2 separate regions of the Homo sapiens genome follow, and region 1 is linked to region 2. The links come from fine-mapping of genetic effects on gene expression. A gene starts in region 2. The other region holds a variant in brackets. All regions are shown on one strand. Distances are from middle to middle.

Region 1 (5,382 bases), 51 kb after region 2:
TGGATGCATGCCAGAGACCACTTTCCCTGGGCTGGGTGTACCTTATCATCTCAGAGTTATATAATTCACATTATGACTGCTAGGCTAAAATACATGGTATTGTCAGACGTAAACAGACTTTTCTTCCATCATTCTTGTTCTCTTCAGTCTAGCACAGCATAGTCAGTTTTGCAAACAGTTTTATAAGTCAAACTAACAGACTTTCAGCAGTAAAAGGCTTACCCTATAAAATCCCAGCTCCCAGTGCCCAGCTGTTAGGGCCTATAGCCAAAGCTGATCATCCCCTGGTATTTTTCAGTCACCTTCTATGCTCGCTTTTGCCTTTCAGTATACTCTTTGTTTCTGTTACCCAGGAATCTCCTTTTTATTATTTCAAATTCAGCGGTGTATTTTGACAGCATTGTCATATTTGATCAGGTATTTCTGTGTGTTTTGGGACAAGGAGGGCCTGTGTCATGTTAGTTTGCCGTATGGTTGGAAGTCACTTTCAGTTTTGTCTTACTTGACCTTTCTTAAAGTTTAGGAAGCCAACAACAAAGCTTTTGAGAACTGTTTAAAAGTTAAGCATATTAAATGTATGTGTATTTTCTTTTATTCAACAAATATAATTTTTAAACATTTACTGTGATCCAGATACAGAAATATCAAGAATAAAACATGGTTACTGCCTTAGTAATCTATGGGATTAATAGATAAGGGAGTAGACAACAATAACATTTTGTGATAAATGCTCTCATAGGAGGCAGAACACAAGTTTGATGGAAACTCATAGGAGGTACCTGTAATTCAGACAGATTAAGTCAGGAAAATGTTTCCAGACAAGGTGATACCTCACATGAATCCTGAAAGACAAGTGAGAATAAACCAGGTGAATAAGCTTAATTAATAAGTTAGGTAAAAAGATACTTGAGGCAGAATTAGTAGAGGTGATGATGTTTAAATGCACTTTTGAAACTTGTAGGTAGTTTGGTAAGGTTGGGTATAGCAGTAGAGGGTTGGGAATGGGAAAAGATGAGAAGGACTTTGGTATGTGGGTATTTTAAGACTAATGTGAACCAGACATCTTAAGAGGATTTCATAATATTCTCCTTCTGTTTTATTCATATAATTTTTATTGTAATTGTTAATAAATACATTTCTCAAAAATTTCAAGGATACAGATTACTTGTAATGCTTCAGAGATACTGAAGAATAACATACACAGAAGTTTTCACCTAAACATTTATTTAAATTTGAATTTTAAAAAGTTAAACCAGAATTAAAGCAATGACAATGAAAATTTGAAAACGATTTTGCAATATATGCATCTGTACTTATTTATACCATAAATATACAATTAGTATAGGTTGACCCTGTCAGAGTGATTTAAAATTACTATATGATTAACTTATATTTTCAAATCAAATTCTAGAAAATAGATTTTTGGGATTTATGTCCAATGCTCAATTTTGGTAGTTCGAGTTTGTCTATTAATCTTTATCTATTTTAAGATCTTCTCGTTTCAGTTTTCATATCAAGCACCTCTCAGATTAGCTCCAAGCCTGTTTAACTTTGTTAAGGGACTTTTATAAAAGTGGACTTTAAAAGATATGTGGGCATGATCAATTTTATGTTCTTGGCAATGTAATTGATCTTAATGATGTGTTTTGCTGGATGTATTTCAGCCTTCTGATATACCTATCCTTTAAATACTTTTCTTTTTTTATTTTCTTTAAATATCTTCTAGTGGGTGTTTCCTGAAACCATCATTACAGATTTATTCTCTTGATTGTTATGCTTCATGATAATATAAATAGCCCTGGAAATGACACAGACTTTAACCGTAGCAAACATTTATGTCCAAATGGAAATTCATGAGCAGAGATTTTAATAGCAAGGTGTGGTAGGCAAGATAATGAACCCTGCTAGCCCCCAGAGATGGTCCACAACCTAAATCTTAGAACCTGTGGATATAAGTTATGTGGCAAGAGGAATTAAGGGAGCATTAACATTAACATTGCTTAGCAATAGACTTTAAGGTAGGGAGATTTATCCTGGATTATCTGGGTGGACCCAGTATAATCACAGGAGTTCTTAAAAGTGGAAGAGGGAGACAGAGGAGAGTTAGTGTCATAGCGGTATGAGAAGAACTTGGTCCCAGTAATGTAGGTTTTTAAGATGGAAGAAGAGGGCCATGAGCCAAGTAATGAGGGTAAGCCTCTAGAAACTGGAATGGGTTCTGCGCTAGAGCATCCCGAAGGGACACAGCCTTGCAGCTACCTTGAATTTAGCCTTGTGAGACCTGTTTCAGACTTCTGACCTGCAGAACTATAAGATGATCAATCTGTGTTTTTTTAAGTCACCAAATTTGTAGTAATTTATTACAGCAGCAATATGAACTAATACAGAAAGTAACAGCATGAAAGCTGTAGATGCCTGGAGAGGCTCTACTGAGAGTGGAACAATACACTGAAAGCACAGCTAGGTTTAAGGGAGGACACATTTTGTCCCCATGGCTCTGCCTTTGTTGAGCGTTGTCTTTGGGTCTTTAGCTTTAGTCATGCTTTATTGGTCACCACAAAGGAACAGTCCACAAATAATCTTGTGAAAACTGTGTAGTTGAATAATTATTATGGCTTTTAAGAAATATTCATTTTTGTCTGGGCACGGTGGCTCATGCCTGTAATCCCAGCACTATGGGATGCCAAGGCGGGCGGATCACGAGGTCAGGATTTCGAGACCAGCCTGGCCAACATAGTGAAACCTCGTCTCTACTAAAAATAACAAAAATTAGCCGGGCGTGGTGGCGCACACCTGTAGTCCCAGCTACTTGGGAGGTTGAGGCAGGAGAATTGCCTGAACCCGGTAGGCAGAGGTTGCAGCAAGTCAAGATCGCACACCAGACTGGGCGACAGTGCGAGACTCCGTCT[GA/G]AAAAAAAAAAAAAAAATCATTTTTGTGATTTTTTTTTTTTTTTTTTTTGAGACGGAGTCTCGCTGTATTGCCAGGCTGGAGTGCAGTGGCGAAATCTTGGCTCACTGCAACCTCTGCCTCCTGGGTTCAAGCAGTTCTCCTGCCTCAGCCTCCCGAGTAGATGGGATTACAGGCATATGCCACCAAGCCTGGCTAATTTTTAGTATTTTAGTAGAGATGGGGTTTCAATGTGTTGCCCAGGCTGGTCTTGAACTCCTGAGCTCAGGCACTCTGCCCACCATGGCCTCCCAAAGTGCTAGGATTACAGGCACGAGCCACCGTGCCCAGCCTTATTTTTGTGACTTTAATGTATTTTTTTCCTGGTAATAGAGATACATGTAAAAGAACCTGACAGTTTTGAGAAACCAGCATTTTAGACTAGCCCTAAGGACCTGTAAAGTGTTTTCATTCTTCCAAAAGTGAATGTTAAGAGGACTTCTTGTAATGGCAGTGTGAAGTGGTTAGTGATTCCTCTTTGCTAAAGGGGAATTTTTTTAAAAGGCATTAAACTGGACAGAACTGTCAAAAAACAACCATTTCTGGCTCCTCTTCCTGTAGCTGTTTCTGTCACCTCCCCTCTTCTCTCTAATCTATGTTGGTGATAACTGAGCTTTCTAGTCTAGGCTGGCCATGAAAATACCACCTCTGTTGCCAGATGAGCAGGTTTAATTCTTTGTTGGCGGGGGAGGGAAGGTACAAAAACTTTTGCCTTTGCCAAGCAAAAGGAACAGATTCTGTTGGGAACAGATGGGTAAAACCTGTACCTTTGTTAGACCAAGGTTGCAGTCCCAATTCGAGGCAAGTGATGGATTAGTCAAAAATTTAACAAGGAGATCTTGTATTACAGCCATAGAAAGACAGATACCCTCTCTACACATCCGTAGATGACAGGAAAACTACATATATGCAGGAGAGACCCAGCAGAGCTCAAACTGGAGTGCCAGTTGCAATTTTGAATGCATTCCCCAACCCACACACAGATCATTTAGCAGAAAGTGAAAGGAAAACCTTATAGGCTCAGGTGTTTGGGCATGATCTGTGCTCAAATTATTGGTTTACCTGCAAACTATACAGACAAGAGGTAGCTGCTAGAGAGCCAGGCTAAAACATTGAAAATAAGAATAAAGCAATGGAATAGAGATATCAGAGGCTGCACACTGTTGAGGAGACAGTTTCCTCAGTGTAAGTCCAGGCAAGTTATGAAATACAAACAAATTGAAAAAGCTAACAACCCTCAGAAAAGTTAAACAGAATATGGTCTTGCTACAATGTATTATCAAAATATAGAGTTTTCAACCACAAATTACTAGATGTACAATGAAACAGAAAAGTGTGACCCATACAAGGGGAAAAAATAGTAGAAATGGACTCTTAGTGGGTCTAGATATTAGATTTAGCAATAACATCAAAATATTTATTACAAGTATGTTGAGAGAATTGAAGGAAAGGGTTTTCAAAGAAATACTAACAGTGAGTTACATAGGAATCTCAATAAATAGAAACTGTAATAAAGAACCAAATGGCGGCCAGGCGTGGTGGCTCATGCCTGTAATGCCACCATTTTGGGAGGCTGAGGTGGGCAGATCACTTGAGGTCAAGAGTTCAAGACCAGCCTGGACAACATGGTGAAACCCTGTCTCTACTAAAAATACAAAATAAATAAATAAATAAATAAATAAATAAATAAATAAAATTAGCTGGGTGTGGTGGTATGTGCCCATGGTCTCAGCTACTCAGGAGGCTGAGATAGGAGAATCACTTGAACCCAGGAGGCGGAGGCCGCAGTAAGTTGAGATACTGCCACGGCACTCCAGCCTGGGCAACAGAGCGAAACTCCATCTCAAAACAAACAAACAAACAAAAAAACAAATGGAAACTCCAGAGTTGAAAAGTATAATTGAAATGAACTTTCTTCACATGGGCTCAAAAGCAGATCTGAGATGATAGAAGAAAGAGTTGGGGGATTTGAAAGATTAACAGAAATTGTCCAGTCCAAAGAACAGAGAAAAAAGTTTGGAGAAAAAACAGAACTTCTGAGATCTGTGGGTCAGTGTCAAGTGTTCCAAAGCATGCATGTAATGGGACTCCCAGGTGAAGAGAAAGAAAGTGGTAGAAAAACAAATGTGAGCTCTCCCTCTCCCTCTCCCTCTCCCCCTTCCCTCTCCCCCTCCCCCTTCCCCCTCCCGCTCCCCCCTTCCCCCTCCCCCTCTCTCCATGGTCTCCCTCTGATGCCAAGCCGAACCTGGACTGTACTGCCGCCATCTCGGCTCACTGCAACCTCCCTGCCTGATTCTCCTGCCTCAGCCTGCCGAGTGCCTGGGATTGCAGGCACGTGCCACCACGCCTGACTGGTTTTCGTATTTTTTTGGTGGAGACGGGGTTTCACTCTGTTGGCCGGGCTGGTCTCCAGCTCCTAACCGCGAGTGATCTGC
Region 2 (5,382 bases):
AATTAGCCGGGTGTGGTGGCTAGTGCCTGTAATCCCAGCTACTCGGGAGGCTGAGGCAGAATTGCTTTGAACCCAGGAGGCGGAGGTTACAGTGAGTCGGGATTGTGCCACTGCACTCCAGCCTGGGTGACAGAGTGAGCAAGACTCCGTTCCCACCCCCCCCAAAAAATGTAATCTTCTGGCTATGCGCAGTGGCTCACGCCTGTAATCCCAGCACTTTGGGAGGCCAAGGTAGGAGGATTGCTTGAGCTTAGTTGTTTGAGACCAGCCTGAGCAACATAGTGAGACCATGTCTCTGCAAAAAATAGAAAAAATTGCTGGACGTGGTGGTGGGCACCTGTAGTTTCAGCTACTCAGGAGTCTGAGGCAGGAGGATTGGTTGAGTCCAAGAGTTTGAGGCTGCAGTGAGCTATGATCATGCCACTTCACTCCAGCCTGGGAAACAGAAAGACATCCTGTCTTTAAACAAAAAAGGAATCCTCCTTTTGTCTCTCATTTTGAGATAGAGTCATTCAAACCATTCTCTTTTTCAAGAAACTCAATGTTTAGAAATAGTGGAGGGATAGGCATACAAAACAAGGACAATATCAGGCTGCCCTAGGGCTGTGTCAAAAGCTCTAAGGAAGCATGGAAGGGGAGTGTCTGACTTCCTGGGTTGAGGGTGGGGGATGTATGTTTGCCTAGGGCTGCTTGAACAAAATGCCACAGACTGGAAGGCTTAAACAACAAAAATTTATTTGCTCACAGGGCTGGGCGCCGTGGTTCACACCTGTAATCCCAGCACTCTGGGAGGCCGAGGAGGGTTGATCACCTGAGGTCAGGAGTTTGAGACCAGTCTGGCCAATAAGGTGAAATGCTGTCTCTACTAAAAATACAAAAATTAGCTGGATGTGGTGGCACATGCCTGTAATCCCAGCTACTCAGAAGGCTGAGGCTGGAAAATTGCTTGAATCTGGCAGGTGAACGTTGCAGTGAGCCAAGATCTCACCACTGCATTCCAGCCTGGGTGACAGAGCAAGACTCCATCTCAAAAAAATATTTTTTTATTTGCTCACAGCTCTGAAGACTAGAAGCCCACGACCAAGGTATCAGCAGGTTGGGTTTCTCCTGAGGCCTCTCTCCTTGGTTTGCAGGTGGCCACCTACTCTCTGTGTCCCCACATGGCCTTTCCTCTGTGTGTGCACATCCCTGGTGTCCTAATCTCTTCTCATAAGGACACTAGTCAGATTGGATTAGGGCCCACTCTAGCGGCCTAATTTTAACTTAATCACCTCTTTAAACACCCTGTCCATAAATACAGTCACATTTTGAGGTACTAGGAGTTAGGGCTTCAACATATGAATTTTGAGTGAGAATCCAATCGATTACCACCAAACTGGTTGCAAATACAAATAAGCTCCTAACAGGGGGCAGAGAAAGTCTTCACAGAAGAGCAAATATCCAAGCTGAAACTTGAAGGACAAATTTTACCAGGTAAACTATAGACACAAGGACATTGCAGATTCTAAACGACAGCATGTCCAGAGGAAAGAGAAAGCACAGGATGTCGAAAACATTGTAGGTGCATGTTAAAAGAGGCTGTCTATTAAAAGAGAGTGGCAGACACAAAAGATGTGCTGCTCAGACCTCCCTTAAAGAAAGACTCACTGCCCAGCTGTAAGGCGTGTGGTTAGATGAACAGCCTACGGCTGTTGGGTTTATCAGGTTTGTCTAACTGTTGAGCCAAGGACCTGCTATTCTTGGAGTGCTTCCTCCAGCCAAAAACTGAGCAAACAGTGATAGCCAAGGCCACTGTTTTCTTGGGGAGATCCTGGCCAATGATTGACGGAGCAAGGCAGTAGTACAAGGGGCTACGCATTTCCTGATGCATAATTTTTGCCCTAGCACTTCCAGTTGGACTTCAGAGACTTCGCCAGCTTGGAATTGTAGTGTCTGCTTTTTTAGAGCACCAGTCTGAAAAAAAAATAGTGAAAAAGCAAGCTGCAGAGTGGGAGAAGGTATTTGCTACATATATAAACAATATAAAGCTCAGATGCAGAATATATATAAATAACTTGAAGGTGTTAAAATAAAGACAAGGCCAGGCACAGTGGCTCACACCTGTAATCCCAGCACTTTGGGAGGCCGAGGGGGGCGGATCACAAGGTCAGGAGATCGGGACCATCCTGGCCAACATGGTGAAACCCCATCTCTACCAAAAATACAAAAATTAGCTGGGTGTTGTGGCGCATGCCTGTAATCCCAGCTACTCGGGAGGCTGAGGCATGAGAATCACTTGAACCCAGGAGGCAGAGATTGCAGTGAGCCGAAATCGCGCCACTGCACTCCAGCCTGGCGACAGAACCGAGGTGGGCAGATCATGAGGTCAGGAGATCGAGACCATCCTGGCTAACACGATGAAACCTCATCTCTACTAAAAATACAAAAAATTAGCCGGGCGTGGTGGCGAGCGCCTGTGGTCCCGGCTACTCGGGAGGCTGAGGCAGGAGAATGGCGTGAACCCGGGAGGCGGAGCTTGCAGTGAGCCAAGATCGTGCCACTGCACTCCAGCCTGGGCGACAGAGCAAGACTCCGTCTCAAAAAAAAAAAAAAAAAAAAAAAAAAAAAAAAAAAAATGAAGCGTTTGTTGAACACCATGTTGCTCTTCCCAGAAACCAGGTAACTAGTATGATTTTATTTCAGGACAATCAACTGAGCAACTTCTTGCAGGGTCAGGGGCAGAGGGTAGAAGTGGTATTACAGCACCTAGTTTATTGCCTTACAATCAATAAATAGAGGGTGAATGAAAAGAAACCCAATAGTTAAAGTGTAAGCTAATTGGTACTAACTACAAATATGGGTTGAATGAAAACAAACCCAACATGCTTTAGGTTTTTTAATACAATCTTATCCACATGAGTTTAGGGTCTTGTCCTATCACCTTGGCTTCTGTTCCCTTTCTGTATTCATCACAGGAAATTTTCAAGTTTTATGAAACCAGCTAGAGCGGAGTTTTATTAACCAGCTGAGGGCGGACTAAAGACTTAACAGACCTGGGCGAAGAAGCAGCACTCCTACTTACTAGGGCAAGACTCATGAACAGGGGGCGGGGGCTCCGGGGGCGGGGACGCGCCCCGTTCTCTTTCGCTCTTCTTCCCGGCAGCCTTAGCGCCAGGCCCGGCGCTCCTCAAGATGGCTGCCGACAGTGAGGTGATTTCTTTGCTCCCTACTTAATCCTTGTCACTATCTAAATTCGTTCCTCATGTCTTCGCCTTGGGGCTTAATTTCTTTTTCTCTCCTTCCCCTTCCCGCAGCCCGAATCCGAGGTATTTGAGATCACGGACTTCACCACTGCCTCGGAATGGGAAAGGTGAGTGAATCGCATTTTTGGTTACCAGCTCCCATGGGCCCTGGCGTCCCCTAGCCGCTTCCCTGACCCCAGACACACCACAAGTGACGCCACTTGTGCGGGAACGGTAATACCGTGGGTCCCGGGTCTCCTCCCCCAGTCTTCTTTGGTCAACCGCAAGCCTCTTCCGCGTCTCGCGTCTGGCAACACCCGGCCCGCCCCCGTCAGCCAATCCCTGAGGCTCAGGCTCTCAGAAAGTTTTGTTTTCTCTCCTGTCAGACCGCTTCCCTTAGACTTTGGTTTTCTGGTTGTTACCCACTCGCAAGAAAAATTTCCGAGGCTGCAACAACCGTTCCGGTTTTCATTACCGTTTAACTCATTATCGTAAGCAGTAAACTTGGTAGGTTGTGCCGCACCTCATCCCGTGTACGTTGGTATACCCTTTTCAGGAGGAAGTCTTTCTTCAGAGTATTGGTAGTTGTCCATCTGTCACACTCCCACCATCTCCATGCTGTCTTTAATTTTTTATTTTTATTTATTTTTGGAGACAGAGTCTCAGTCTGTCCGCCCAGGCCGGAGTGCAGTGGCGAGGTCATAGCTTACTGCGGCCTCGAACTCCTAGGCTCAAGTGAAGCTCCCGCTTTAGCCTCGGGAGGAGCTGGGACCACAGGCACGCGCTATTACGCCCAACTAATTTTTTAAAGATCTCGCTGTGTTGCCCAGGCTAGTCTTGAACTCCTGGGCTCAAGCCTGGGCCGCCCAAAGTGCTGAGATTACAGGCGTGAGCCTCCGCCCATCCTGTCTTTTAGAATAACCTTTTTAAAAAGTCTGCATATGGTTTTGGAATGCTTTGATTTAAGTTGTTACATTAAAGTGGGTACTGTGCCCAGGCTTCCTGTGCCTGTCAAATTCAGATGAACAGCTGTCTGGGTGAAACTGTTCTATTACTGAAATTAGTTGAAAGCCAAGTTTGTGGAGGAGTGATAGCTTAGATCGAGAAGGTTTCTGTTAAGTGTCACAGAAACCCTTCAGTTTCCTGGGTGTTGAAGTCAGTGTTTACGCTGTTACAGCATTTTATAATCTTTCTGGTTGGGAGAGGAAATTTGTGGATGTCGTGTCATTAGGTGGCACAGGAAAATATAAAAGGTCCTTGTTGGAATAATAGTTAGACCTGTGGTACCCTTCATAAAAGTGTCAGTAAGACATAACCACACTGGCAAGACTTCATTGAGTAGGTACTGGGTGTCCAGAGCTATATACAAAGGGAAAAGCAGAAACTTGACCCATATATTTTTAAAAAACAACAAACAGCAAATAGTTAAAATGTAAGCCAGTTGGTACTACCTGTAAAAATAATAATTAAAATAATTATTATTTAAATAGGGGTGATATTGTGGACTACAATAGTTGGAGATATTTTCATAGAAAAGATAGGAAATGAGCTGGGCCTTGAAAGTGGGAAGTGGTTGGTTAAACATGAGAATGGACTGACATGGGTAGAGACATAGGTGAGAATGAATCTTTGAAGGGACTGAATGAAGAAATATATCTTCACTAGAGTGAAGACTGTCTATTGAAGGGAAATAAATAAGGTTAACAAGGAAGACGGGATTGGGTTATGGACATCTTCCCAAACTAAATACAGGAATCCAGATTCAGTATTCCTATGACCAGTGATTCTCATACTTTAATGTACATCAGAGTCTTAGATTGCTGGGCCCCATCCTCAGAGTTTCTGATTCTGTAGGTCTGAGGTGGGACTGAAAATTTTGCTTGTGTAACACGGTCTCAGGTAATTCAGATGCTGCTGGTCAGGAGACCACACTTAGAAAGAACCACTGCTTAAGACAATAGTGAGAGACCCTTCGTTTTAGAGTGGCCAGGTGATATGATGAAAGTGGTTTTAGGACATGATGTAGAATAATGGTGGGAGACTTAACTTGATTCATAATTAGGATGGTGATTTGTGGACTGGAATACAAAGGGAACCTAGAAGGGAGGATTGTAACATATTTCAGAGAAGATTTAGGTAATAAACTTGATGATACGTTAAA

Which allele goes with the higher level. Alleles are on the strand shown, and positions count from the first base shown. SD is a standard deviation of normalised expression in the study named.
As copies of G replace GA in region 1, the expression in monocytes of the gene that starts at base 3,156 in region 2 goes down (large effect, 0.84 SD a copy in Quach 2016).

The links. PIP is the estimated chance that this variant, and not a neighbour inherited with it, causes the effect.
Region 1: its variant is the best candidate, but not a certain one, in a credible set for the expression of RAB3GAP1 in monocytes (Quach 2016, PIP 0.79).

The regions. Positions count from the first base shown.
Region 1 is chr2:135,100,097-135,105,478 of GRCh38, forward strand. The region is part of intron 5 of RAB3GAP1 (RAB3 GTPase activating protein catalytic subunit 1); the gene reads left to right. Among named protein-coding and RNA genes, the nearest start is that of SNORA40B, 34 kb to the right of the region's middle. The variant GA/G (reference allele first, on the strand shown) is at 2,910.
Region 2 is chr2:135,049,137-135,054,518 of GRCh38, forward strand. It overlaps RAB3GAP1 (RAB3 GTPase activating protein catalytic subunit 1), which reads left to right and starts at 3,156. Exons shown (of 24, transcript NM_012233.3): 1 at 3,156-3,189; 2 at 3,294-3,349. The coding sequence starts at 3,172. RefSeq lists an enhancer at 3,729-3,868.